Homo sapiens: one gene and its partners. The protein of the gene in region 4 purifies or fractionates together with the protein of the main gene of each other region. This does not show direct contact. Each region holds a gene or a part of one and is shown on either strand. Other genes may lie near its edges.

Region 1 (3,500 bases), on a different chromosome or scaffold from region 4:
AGAAGCAGGGTCCACATTACTGCTGGAGGTTTAGGTCTTAATGTCAAAGGTCTGGTTTAATGTGTTCAATTCCTTTTGCACACATGCTTTTGTGTGCACGCACACACACACACACACACACACACACACACACACACACACACACTCTCACCCCTACAGTCTTAATAGGTCTTATGAATCAGTTGTATGGATTAAATAGAACTTCCAACTGAAAAACGCTAAGGCATATAGGTCTCTTCCTGTCCAACGTTGTCAGATGTGCTCTGAAATGACTGTTTTCATCATCTATTCTGAGCCATAACCACCCCAGAAATAGCTTTAGCAGGAAAGTGCTTTTGTTAGACTAGCTGTAAATTATATTTCAAATGTCTGATGTTGTTTTCTTAAAAAATAAATAAATAAGTAAATGAAAGTCTAAAATTAATGACTGCTGGGGTTTGCTTTGCTTATGTGTACTGCTACAGATTTGGCTTCTTGCAGATGGAATTTCAGATCTGTTTACACTTCTGTGTTAGCTTTTGGGGGGAAGAAAAGCAGTTGAGAGATCTGGGAGGACAAATTTACAAAGTCGAACTTATTATAACCATTGGTGAGGCTCTCTTCTCTCTCTCTACTGCCCTTTCCCTCCCTCCTTTCCATCTTGCCCCCATTTTATTTGTTGTGGTTTTTATCTGCCCTGCTTCAAAGTTAGAGGCGACTGGTCCTTGCAGATGTGACGACAAGGTCACATATCCAGTTTCGCAAGCAGATGTTCATTCAGCCCTATTTCACCAGCACTTTGTCATTTGGTGAGAGCAGACCTCATGGGAACAGACTGGAGCAACACAAAGGATGGAACATAAAAAAATCTTGCAGAGAACCTGATTGCTTTTATGTATTCAGGAAGAAGGGGATGGGGGTAGGGAGGGTGGCAAGGAGAGAAATGTGCAGAGCAGAATTTCATGAGGTTTTTTTTTTTTTTCTGGTTTATTCAAAGATTATTATGTGTTGGATACAGTAAATCATCTATACACCCACTTCCAGGAGGTAAATCTTCAGAACTCCATGTGTGGGTAGCTCTGCATTTAACAGCTGCCATACAGTAGCTATTTTGTTCTGCACTTAGAGACCCTTATCTGTGCATTTGTTTTAAGTTATTGTCAACTCTCCTGTTGTTCCTCTATTGTTGTTCTCCTGGTTCTCATTACTATTACAAGGGTAGCTAAAAATCTGAACTACTGAGTGATTTAAACTGACACCATGAGTTGTAACGGTAGATGAGGGGCTGTCATCTTGGTTGTGGACTCAGCATCTACTCTGAGGGTGATTGCCTATAATGGAATTAGCTCCTCTTGCCTTTTCCTAGGTCTCATATGCCCGTCCGAGCTCTGCCTCAATCAGGGATGCTAACCTCTATGTTAGCGGCCTTCCCAAAACCATGACCCAGAAGGAACTGGAGCAACTTTTCTCGCAATACGGCCGTATCATCACCTCACGAATCCTGGTTGATCAAGTCACAGGTTAAGTGTTTCTTTGTAATTTCTTTCCTTGTATATCAATGTCATCAGCCCTGTTACTCATAAGAGCAGAAGGCTGATGGCTGCTTAAAGCAGATGATATGGATCATGAATAGACAGATTTTTGACTTGGAAGAAAGACTTCTTATCGGTCAACTGCCCAAATTTAAAATGGGCCATCTTGGGAGGTAGGAGTTCTCCATCATGGGACTTGTTTTAGCAGCAGCTAAACTACTTGCCAGGGTTGTAAAAAGGATTCAGGCATCAGGCTGAGAGTGGAACTGTATGACCTTCAAAGTCTGATTCAGCCCTCAACCAAATAACATTACTTTTGTATGTGAAAAGAACCTGTATGCATAGCTGTAACTCCAATTCATAGCATTATAGAGTTAGAAGGAATTGTCCCATTTCACACTTGAGGAAACAGGTTGAAAGTGGGGGATCTGACTCCCCAAAGCTAGTTAGTAGCAGTACAAGGATCTGAACCGAGGATCTGGTACTGGTGTTCTTTGTCCATAATAAAGAAAGGCAGCCACCACCTCTCAGTAAGAAATGTCAGGTACTCTGGGTTGCACTTTTAATGACAAGGTGTTTTCGCCTACCTCCAATTTGATTCCAATTTAGAACTCACCCCCTGAGAATAGTTTAGCACGTTTATCATGTGATTCATGAGACAAACCTTCACAGAAGTCTGCTCTGCCCTAGACATTGTGCAGAGGGACCCTGGAGACCAAGAAAGAAGCAGGCACTGCCCCACCCTTACAGGACTCCAGTGTGGAGTCCAAATACTTGCTAGAAGCTGTCAAGTGCCCCTGAGAGCTCAGGAGAAGGTGTGCCATGCCTGGTGGGAATTGCTAGGAGGGCCCCATTGAGGAGGCAATGTTTGAATAGGAGTTTGGAGGATGTTTCAGAGGTATCCAGCAAAAAGGAGGGACAGAGCAGTGTAAGTGGAGAGGAGAGCATATCCCAAGGCATGGAATCGAGGAAGAACAGTCTATTCGAGGAGGATCAGGCAGTTCAGGGTGGCTGGTGTGAGCCTCAATAGGGAATTTGGGGCCAGATTGCCAGAGGCATTGAATGCTGTGCCAAGAAGTCTGGACTTTATCTGGGTGCAGAATGGAGCCATGGAAGGGTATTTTGTAGGTTTTGTTTGTTTGTTATTCATTTTAGAATGGGAGTCAGTGAAGAATAGGTACTATGCACAAGGTACAAAATTCAAAAAGTACAAAAGAGATACAGAAGATGTTTTTAAAGCATATCATGTGGTCAGAGTTCACTTTTCAAATAGATTGCACACTAGCTACATGTGGAGGACACATGAGAAGACTAGAAACTGGACAGTGAGTGATCAGTTATAGTAACTTTTGGGAGGTGATGATGGGGCAGAGCAGTGATAGAGGACTAGAGGGGCCAGATGCAAGAGAGCCCTGTGTTCTGTGGCTGGGAGGCATCAGTCCAGAGCCATGATAGCAGGAATGCAGGTAAACGTGTTTTGATTGGTGAGAGAGATCAGGGAGCTGGGCTCAGCCCTGGCACCACAGGTGGGCTTACTCCTCACACAATATCCACAGGACCCATCTCTTCCCAAAGATGTTTACCAGTTTGGTGTGTTCACTCTTTACAAAGGCTCTTTCTCTTTCCCCAGGAGTGTCCAGAGGGGTGGGATTCATCCGCTTTGATAAGAGGATTGAGGCAGAAGAAGCCATCAAAGGGCTGAATGGCCAGAAGCCCAGCGGTGCTACGGAACCGATTACTGTGAAGTTTGCCAACAACCCCAGCCAGAAGTCCAGCCAGGCCCTGCTCTCCCAGCTCTACCAGTCCCCCAACCGGCGCTACCCAGGTCCACTTCACCACCAGGCTCAGAGGTTCAGGTAGGCATGCCCAAAGAGGAAGAAGCCCTGCTACAGGGGTTCATAGCTGGGCAAGAGCCAGGGAAGCCCATGGTCCTGACAAATGGGGCAAGGGTAAAAGCTTCCACCCCCAGGAATCACTGTGCAAAACTCC
Region 2 (3,047 bases), on a different chromosome or scaffold from region 4:
AGCAAAACTTAGTATTGATAAAACTATCAGGTCGGTCATTTAGGATTGACTTTCTGTCACATGACTAGAGAAGCAAGTTCAATGAATATTAGATTTGGCCAAACCCTGTTTCTTGTACCGTTACGTTTGTGTAACTTTATGAGAATCCAGAGGCCAAAGTAAAGAAAATGGCCTGATACTAAATAAGAGCTAAATGTGGATTTAAAGAAACACTGTCAGCCTGATTAAAACAAAGGTCCGATTATGACATTTCATTACTATAATTTAGTGGTAAACGTCCTTTGGCTCTAAGGCTTTCTCCTGAAAAGCTGTCATTTGTTTGTCAAGATACTTAAAATAATAACTCTTTGTTTTTACAGACCTTGGGTTTATTCTAAACCACTTAGAAAAATGTGTCAGAGTGCTTCAAGCCCACAGATATGAAATGCCCAATTTCTCTTGGCCCTTGCCTGTTGGACATCTCCAAAGAGACTGGCTTAGTTGCTGTCGCTACAATGTGCTAATTGGCGCAGCACCTGCAATCAATTAGGGAAGCTTCAATTATCCAAACCAAAGCCACCCACCCAAAGATTAATTTTCTGCTCTATTTCCTATCAAAAACATAGCATATTTAGCTCTGAGTCTAGTCCTTTGGTGGAGTGCATTTTAGACATATAAACTACATCGTTTTCTTAATTGTACTTGTTCCTTCAATTCAGCAGCTTTCCCCTCGTGATATCACGCCCACCAGTTCTTTCAAAATTGTTCTTTTTTTGTTGTTGTTTTCTTGTCTTTCCAAAATGCTGAGATCACAGAGAAGAGATGTTAGTTGGGGAGCTTTTCTTTTGAAGTATGGATTTCTTTATTCTTTTGAAAATACCCAATCTCTTTTGCATTATAGGATCTAACTTCCACAACCTAAAAGCTTTGCATAATAGCGTATCTGAATTTAACAGCACTCATAAATACTGTTTTCTAATTGTCCCATGTCATTGGCCCATGTAAATACAAATATTTCTCTCTCCCCGCCCCCCTTCTAAAGAATGATTTTTCTCTTATGTTTCTCAGAGAAGGAACAAGCTATAAATCGGGCTGGAATTGTTCAAGAGGATGTGCAGCCACCAGGTAAACTGAAAAAAAAAAATCAAAACCAAATCTTATTTGTACTACTGTGTTGTGCGGGTTTGTGTGTGTTTGCCTTGGCGTGGAGAGTGGGAAAATGCCTTTTAGCTTAGAGACAAGATTGTGATTTTGCTATTTATTTCTCAACAGTTGCCATTTATAGATGCCACCCAAGGCGTCATTCTAATATTTCACTCCAGAATACTTTTTGCACGTTTGCCAGGTTCCTCTTTTCCATTTTATAAGTGGGCATAAAAATGTTAACAAGTGCGTGATTCGATATGAGACGTGAATAGCTGTTTGGCAGACTTATTTACCAAGCACCTATTTAAACACTCCCCTCATGGGAAAATAGTGTTTACTTGTTAGCTGTTTGAATTGATGTGGGGTTCTGCTTTGCACAAGGGCTAAAAAGCTCCCTTTATGGCTGAATGGTTAGTTCCTTTCAGAGGATCCAAGTTAGCCAGGAATGAGAGGTTTCTCATTTATTAACCAAAGCTCTTATAATCTGTGGCAACATTCTTTTTTATTTATTTATTTTTTAACTAGGCCAGATGTCGGTCTTCCTGCTATGGGGTACAATTCCTGAGCCATTTAAAAGTCCCTTATGGCAGCCATGGCTTCCTGGCCATTTAATGCCAAGGTTCCGGCAGCCTGCTCACACCATCTCAAACTACACTGTAAATTGCACAGCTCAGTTCTGATGTCATTTTGTTTGTTTGGGGTGGAGGAAAGTGGAAGGACATTTAAAAATGAATCCTGTTTTTGTTCCTGTTTCTTTCCATAGGGTTAAAAGTGTGGTCTGATCCATTTGGCAGGAAATGAGAGGGCTGTCATCAGCTCTGATTAAGAAAGGAGATTTCTTCATGCTTTCGATTCTGCATGGGGTACAGCCAGTCACCTCACCAGAGAATGACGGCTGGAGAAGAAAACTCTGTAATACCATAAATAAGAGTGCTTGTAATAAAAGACTGTGCACAAGGATTAATATTTCCCTTCTTAAGTATCAAAAGAACTCTGGAACAAATTATACCATTAGGAAGGTTTTCATGATTCAGTTGATTTTCCAAAAATGAAGCTATCTCACCCAGCTGGGTTTGGAGGAGCAATCTGCTTATTATTCTGTCGTTACCACTTACTCAAGCGAGCTGTGATATGAATACAAGCAACCAGTGGGCTCGGGAAGGTCCGGGTCTCTTCTGCCATCTTCCAGATAAGAGATTTCAGTAAAAAACTGCCATGCTGAGCTGCCTTATAGAGCTCTTCGAAAATGTTCGAGTTGATAAAGCTCTTTGAGGACAAGGTACTTCGTGCACCTCATGCTGAAGATTGCACCGTGTTGGAAAATAAATATGAAGCAAGTCAAACTAGATGCATACACTTGTGTAGAAATCAATAATCAATTAATAGAAGTGAAAAAATAGACATTAAAATGATTTATTTCTACTTTGCAGTGGTGTCTTTTTGTAAATCATCTTTTGTAAAGCAATTAAAATTATAGTGCCGAGAAGTACAATTTGACTACATTATATTTGACTAGGTATCTGTGTGCGATTCATCTGTTTGTACTCAGGTAAACGTTTTAGAGGTAAATAACAAATTTGTTGAGACAAATATTGAATGGTGATTCTCTACCAGGTACCTCACTAGGTGCTGCAAAGATGAAAGTGAGAAGACTAGTTGAGTATCCCTTATCCAGAAAAGCTTGGGAACAGAAGTGTTTTGGACTTGAGATTTTTTTGGATTTTGGAATATTTGCATATAAATGATGAGACATTTTGAGGATGGGACCCAAGTCTAAGCATGAAATTTATTTGTGTTTCATATACTTTATACACATAGCCTGAAGGCAATTTGATATAATGTTAAAATAATTTTGTACATGAAACAAACTTTTGACTAAAACCATCACATGAGGTCAGGTGTGGAATTTTCCACTTGTGTCA
Region 3 (3,500 bases), on a different chromosome or scaffold from region 4:
AAACTGTCAAACAAAACATTAATAAAGAAAAAATTCATTTTAAGAACTTTTTAAAAATACCATTTTGAAATTAAAAATTAAAACCCGCCTTAATTTTCTTCCCTTAGTTTCTTTCATTTCTACATACTTACATTTAAGTCTTTTATTTCAAAACACAACAAAAATGAAAATAGCTTAGGCATTCTTTCCATAAAATAATATTTTTCTTACCAATGCCATTTCTCCTGTATTTGGAATCCACGGCTAACATGGCTATATAACCTCTGCGGAACATCTTTTTGTGCATATCCAACTTGCAAACGATGGCACCTACACACTCCTCCCCTACCATGGCCTTAAAAATAAACAAACAGTTATGAAGAATACATTGCCATCAGGTACTGCACAATTATCCAGAGAAAACAACAACCAACCATTGGTAAGCATTTTCGACGGGGGAAGATAATGGGAACTCTTGCAAGACAGCAGTCACAGAAGTTTCAGAAATCTAAATCCCCTAACTCCTTTAAATGTTCCAGTGTTAAAATTTCTCAATATTCTTTAGAACATGAATTTTTTATGCTTACTATTAAAGCCTAGGGAAAAAAGACAAGATTCCACAAGGTAAACATTCAAGTACTTTATAAGATTACATATGAGGTGCTTAAAATCACAATTATTTGCAACAAAGACCTAAGGTTCTGGAAGGGGAAATATGCAAAAAAAAAATGATTATAAAGAAAAAGTCTATTCATTAGGACATAAAATATTGTAAAACTTGCCCATCAGCAGAATGTAAATTTAAATATATTCAGTTAAATTTAGTAATAATGGCCAGGTGCTGTGGCTCATGCCTGTAAACCCAGCACTTTGGGAGGCAGGCGCAGGCAGATTGCTTGAGCTCAGGGGTTTGAGATCAGCGTGGGCAACATGGCAAAACCCTGTCTCCACCAAAATTACTTAAATTAGCCAGGTGTGGTGGCATGCACCTGTAGTTCCAGCTACTTGGAAAGCTGAGATAGGAGAATGGCTTGAGCCAGGAAGGGAGAGGCTACAGTGAGCTGAGATCGTGCCACTGCACTCCAGCCTAGGTGACAGAGTGAGACCCCATCTCAATAAAAGAAAAAAATGAAAATAAATTTAATAATAAAGTTTTAGTGAAAGCCAGATATAATACATATTTACACCTGAATGGTAGATTTCGATCAGGAAAAAAAAATTAAAAATTTTCAGAAAAAGCACAGTTTATAAGGTATTGCTTAGACCATACCCAAGAGGTTTTTGTTAATATATGTAAGTGTAGCATAGTCTCATTTTTAGGATACTCCTGATAGTGTGGATAACTGTCATAAAGCTCTCAGAATATTTATAGTTCAAAATCAAAGCTTTATGTTAAAAGCTTTAATTTTACAGAAATTTCTATTTTAATAAAAACGTACAGCTTTCCAGAGTATTAAAAGCTACATGTTAAATTCTAATCATCCCCCATTTTCATTAAGATTTCTAGTGTTACCATTGAAAATGTTTTTCAAAAATTCCAATGCTGATAAAAAGTTCTAGTAACACAGTATTTCTGGTAAATATAAATAGGGCAGTATCTCCAACTGTTTAAATAATGTGTCAGTAAGAAGTCTGTTTTCCATAAATTAACTTTCCAGAAGAAACTATTTCAACAAAAGCAGAAATGAGTCAAAAAACTAATAAGTAATGTCCAATTTATAATTAATACATATTTTAAATTTGTGACTTTTTTAGTCTGTCATTCTGTAAATTGATTAAAAGGCCTTTTTTTAACTGTGGAGAAATCTTTTCAGCAAGATAATTCTAATCCATTTCATGCAAACCTAAACTAGGTCGGAAAAATCCTTTTGAAGGAATATGAAATTCAACAACCCACGCTAATTCATTTCTGGTTTATCACACATTCCAAAACTATTTTGGGTCAATAAACCTCTGAAATTGTTATTTCTAATTTTTTCCCTCACAATACATCAATCTTTTAAAAAAATTTTTTAAACAAAGACCTGAAGTATGCACAAAAATCGCCTCGACCAACTCTGAAAGCTTTTTCTGATTTGAAACTCACTTCAAATATATGTGCGTATATACAGACACGTATAAATACATACACATACATAAAATTATCACAGACCAAATGGTATATTTAAAAGGGCCAGAAAAAATTTTGGCCTGACCTCATAAGCCAGGCTCAGGTGAAATGAAAACCTGTATTAGATTGATGATACAAACCTCAGAATAGCTACACCTTATATAAAACTATCCAAAAATGAGGAAAAATTAAAACCATTAAACACAATACAACTGGACAGTACTTTCAATCTGAACAGGAATTTCAAACAAATCTTTGTCCTTTGAGCATGGAATAAGCAAACAAAATATTAAATTAGTTCATTCTTAAGACCTGATTTCTTCCTAATTTAGAATCTATAGGAGCAAAAATCAAGCTGTATACATCATCTAAAAAGCCCAATATATCATACACCATTACGATGACATTAGTAGTGAAGACCAATGCTGCATTTTTTTTTCCTGATAAACTACTCATGAATATGTGGTACATTTACAGGAATCACTAAATTGCTTGTCAATTTTTCCAAATAAAAGCTCTGCATATACATTTGGAATTCACGCTATTAAATGTATTTTTTCAAGGATGGGAACTGAAAAATCCCCGGCAAGATTAAGACTTAACACTACAAGGCCAAAGGGTTGTCAGTCTATAAAACTATGAAAAAAATAAAGTGAGAGATTCCCAAATTCTAGAACACTACAAATAGAAAACTGGAGGAAGCCAAAAAGTTAAATTTAGAACAAATAAATGGAAGTACTATGTTACATTTGCTGAGAGTAAGTTTAAGAACTTCAAAAAGATACCAACAACTGAAAATGTTACTATGAAAACAGGTAAAGATAAAATGGTTAAGTACAGAGTAACTGAAAGTGTCTCACATTTGTCCTTTTTTTTTTTTTTTTTTACATCTTTTACAATTAGGAAGAATCATAATAAGCTATCATTTTTATTAATCAAGTATTGGCAATTTTGTAAGGTTCAACCCCATATACTCCATTGACCCATTACAGGTTATCCACGGAAAACGGAACATTTTGGAGGTTTTTAATCTCTTGAGATTGATGTAAGGGCAACTGTCCCTTGGTGAAGATAACTTGGTGACACAATAATCTTCACTGAATGGATCAAGGGTATGTCATTTTTCAGGTTCTTGTTTGTTACCATAATGAGAGGCCAGGAGAACTGGGTTCTAGCTTTACCCTTCCGACGGTAAATATCTGGAGATTGAAACATTTTAAGTCACTTTGGTTCTTAACTTCTTTTCAATCAAAAAACAAAACAAAACCTACCCCTCTGTCAGTAAATATCTGGAGATTGAAACATTTTAAGTCACTTTGGTTCTTAACTTTTTTTCAATCAAAAAACAAAACAGAACAAAACCTAAGTTGGGCTAGATTATCTCTAGGATGGCTTTCAGTTCTAAAAGGAT
Region 4 (3,500 bases):
GATCTGCCTGCGTCTGTCTCCCAAAGTGCTAGTTGCTAGGATTACAGGTGTGAGCCGCTGGGTCTGGCATAAGAGTTAAAGTTTGTTAATCTTATGCCTAATTGAAAAGTAGAAGACACCAATAGAACAATATTTAAGAACTTTTAATCTGGGTTTTGTTTTGTAGAGGTAAATGTGTTTCGATTGGAAATGGAGGGCATTACAGTTAAAGGAAAAGGTTGCCCCAAACCAATTAAATCCTGGGTCCAGTGTGGAATTTCCATGAAGATCTTAAATTCCCTCAAGAAGTAAGTGGTTGGTGGTTGTTTATGTTTTCCGTGTCTTGCTGCTCAAAATAGTCCTTCCACACCAGTGTCTCCCTGAGTTACATTTTTACTCTAAAAAAACCCTTACGTTTTAAAAAACTTTCATTGAGATAATTTATATATCAAAATTTACCCTTTAAATTATACAACTGGTTTTTTTTTGTTTTGTTTTGTTTTGTTTTTTGAGACAGAGTCTTGCTCTGTTGCCCAGGGTGGAGTGCAGTGGTGCAATCTCACTGCGCTCACTGTGACCTCGGCCTCCCGGGCTCAAGCAGTTCTCCTGCCTCAGCCTTCCGAGTAGCTGAAACTATAGGTGTGTGCCACCATAGCTGGTTATTTTTATTTTTAGTAGAGACAGGGTTTCACCATGTTGGTCAGGCTGGCGTTGAACTCCTGACCTCAGGTGATCCGCCCGCCTCAGCCTCCCAAAGTGCTGGGATGACAGGCGTGAGCCTCCATGCCCGGCCTTTTTTTTTTTTTTTTGAGACGGAGTTTCACTCTCGTTGCCCAGGCTGGAGTGCTGTGGCTCGATCTTGGCTCACTGCAACCTCCGCCTCTTGGGTTCAAGTGATACTTTTGCCTCAGCCTCCCAAGTAGGTGGGATTACAGGCATGTGCCACCATGCCTGGCTAATTTTGTATTTTTAGTAGAGACAGGGTTTCTCCATGTTGGTGAGGGTGGTCTCGAACTCTCTACCTCAGATGATCCACCCGCTGCGGCCTCTGAAAGTACTGGGATTACAGGCGTGAGCCACCAAGGCCGGCCTTTTTTTTTTTTTTTTTTAAGAGATGGGGTGTCGCTATGTTGACCAGGCTGGTCTCCAACTCCTGGCCCCAAATGATTCTCCCATCTCAGCCTCCCAGAATGCTGGGATTTCAGTCATGAACCACTGCGCCCTGCCTAATTTTTAAATTTTTCATTATCCCAAAAAGAAACTTTTGTCCATTAGTAGTCAGTCTTCTCCCCTCTCCCCACCCCTGGGCAACCATTAATCTATTTTTTGTCTCTAGAATAGATTTGGCTATTCCTAACATTTCATGTAAATGGGATCAAACAATATATAGTCTTTACTGCCTGATCTTTTTCACTTTACATAATGTTGTAAAGATTAGTCCATATTGTAGAATGTGTTAGTACTTCATTCCTTTTTATTGCCAAATAGTATTTTATTGTATGATATATACCACCTTTTGGAAGTTCATTTTTATGGGAACACATAGGACCTGTCTGGGGCCCAGCAATCTCAATTCTTACCTTTTCTTCCTTTGGTTTTCTTTTTAAGGCATGGCTATGAAAAGCCCACGCCCATCCAAACCCAAGCTATTCCTGCTATAATGTCTGGACGAGATTTGATTGGCATTGCCAAAACAGGAAGTGGAAAGACCATTGCTTTTCTGTTGCCCATGTTTAGACACATCATGGATCAGAGGTCATTAGAGGAAGGAGAGGGGCCAATAGGTACAATTCTTTTCATTAAACTATTTTTCAAATAACAGCTTTGTTGTCAAACAGAAAGACCTTATAGTTTATAATGTTCTTAATTATGACAATGAAGTTGTCTTTATGTACATTTTCTTTATCAATTTGGCACTTTGGGGCTGATTTCCCCTTACCAGCAGGTGGAGTGAGAATCTTCAGAGCTCTGGAGTGACATCTCAGAAGTACAAAAACAGCCTCTCCTGGCACAGCTCAGTTTTTAAACTCTGACTTGGCAGGTAGACTCCTCGTGCATCTATCTGTTTATTTATATTGAGGTTTGTTAGCCCAGTATCAGTGGATATATAAAAGCGACATGGAAGATATCCTAGGGAAACATATTTTCCTAGGTAGTTTTTGGCCTTAACAGGCTATAATGCCAGCATTTCATTCAAGATTACTTGTTTAGATTCTGGTTTCTTGATTCATCTTGGCAGAGATAACTCTTGGAAAGTTGAGTAGGGTTTTGGAAAGTTGTTCAGCTTCTCTCTTAGGAACACGGGGCATAGTATATCTCTCCTCTGTCTGTGCCCCTCAGACCAAGGTTGTTTCTGGAAGCAGCAGTATGGCTTCTGTGGCACAGTGAGTCACTTGATTTTCTTTGTTCTGTGATTTGCATTAGAAAACTGTTTGCATTCTTTTGAACCAAGTATTTTCCTGAGGGTTGGATGAGGCATTTAACTGTCATTTATCTTCTTTTAGCATGTTTTTAAAAATCTGCTTATATTTATCCTTCCCCACAACCTCTGCTGTTATACAACTTTTGAAATAGTTTTCAGGGATGCATAACAAAACAAAAATTAGGTGAAACAATCTGAACTTTATTGTAAAGGTTAAATTGAACACTATAAAGCACAGCCTTAAGAATTTTGGTGGTTAGGCTACTGATGTATTTATCTTTCCAGCTGTCATCATGACTCCAACTCGAGAACTGGCTTTACAGATTACTAAAGAGTGTAAGAAGTTTTCCAAGACTTTGGGACTTAGAGTGGTCTGTGTTTACGGAGGAACAGGAATCAGTGAGCAGGTAGTTATATAAGAAACATTCATGTTTTCCATTCTTTTCTCAAGTTGGATGATTCAATAAAGTAAAAGTGACTTTTACTTTTAGTTTTTTGAATAGTGATTGCTTCTAAAATCATTTAAAAAATGAAGTATAAAAATAATAGTAAGAATTAGTTATTTTATGTAGGATGAATACCTTTGGAGATGTAATGTACAGCATGGTGACTAGTTAATGTTATATTGTGTGCTGAAAATTCGCTAAGCCAGTAGATCTCACATCATGTTTTTTTTTTTTCTTTTTTGAGATGGAGTCTCGCTCTGTCACACAGGCTGGAGTACAGTGGCGCGATCTCGGCTCACTGCAACCTCTGCCTCCCTGGTTCAAGCGATTCTCCTACCTCAGCCTCCCAAGTTGCTGGGACTACAGGTGCCTGCCACCACGCCTGGCTAATTTTTGTATTTTTAGTAGAGACGGGGTTTCACCATATTGGCCAGATTGGTCTTGAACACCTGACCTCAGGTGATCCTCCTGCCTCGGCCTCCCAAAGTGTTGGGATTACAGGTGTGAGCCACCGTGCCTGACCAATCTTACATGTTCTTACCACAAAAGAAAATATTGGTAACTATATGAGGTGATATGTTAGCTTGATTGTGTTCATCATTTCAGAGTGTATATGTATATCAAACATGTTGTACACCTTAAATATATATAAT

What was found. Proteins that work in one complex are often made in the same cells at the same time.
Region 1: the proteins of DDX46 (region 4) and ELAVL4 purify together in Homo sapiens (co-immunoprecipitation; one large-scale study listed by IntAct). This does not show direct contact.
Region 2: the proteins of DDX46 (region 4) and SMIM20 fractionate together in Homo sapiens (co-fractionation; one large-scale study listed by BioGRID). This does not show direct contact.
Region 3: the proteins of DDX46 (region 4) and NAA30 purify together in Homo sapiens (co-immunoprecipitation; one large-scale study listed by IntAct). This does not show direct contact.

The regions. Positions count from the first base shown.
Region 1 is NC_000001.11:50,192,420-50,195,919, forward strand, and holds part of ELAVL4 (ELAV-like protein 4), read left to right. Parts: intron 1-1,345; coding exon 1,346-1,499; intron 1,500-3,141; coding exon 3,142-3,367; intron 3,368-3,500. UniProt on the Homo sapiens protein: RNA-binding protein that is involved in the post-transcriptional regulation of mRNAs. Plays a role in the regulation of mRNA stability, alternative splicing and translation.
Region 2 is NC_000004.12:25,927,266-25,930,312, forward strand, and holds the end of SMIM20 (small integral membrane protein 20), read left to right. Parts: intron 1-1,047; coding exon 1,048-1,104; intron 1,105-1,888; coding exon 1,889-1,926; 3' UTR 1,927-2,547; downstream 2,548-3,047.
Region 3 is NC_000014.9:57,393,586-57,397,085, reverse strand, and holds part of NAA30 (N-alpha-acetyltransferase 30), read right to left. Parts: intron 335-3,500; coding exon 211-334; intron 1-210. UniProt on the Homo sapiens protein: Catalytic subunit of the N-terminal acetyltransferase C (NatC) complex. Catalyzes acetylation of the N-terminal methionine residues of peptides beginning with Met-Leu-Ala and Met-Leu-Gly.
Region 4 is NC_000005.10:134,782,779-134,786,278, forward strand, and holds part of DDX46 (probable ATP-dependent RNA helicase DDX46), read left to right. Parts: intron 1-166; coding exon 167-287; intron 288-1,587; coding exon 1,588-1,763; intron 1,764-2,686; coding exon 2,687-2,808; intron 2,809-3,500. UniProt on the Homo sapiens protein: Component of the 17S U2 SnRNP complex of the spliceosome, a large ribonucleoprotein complex that removes introns from transcribed pre-mRNAs.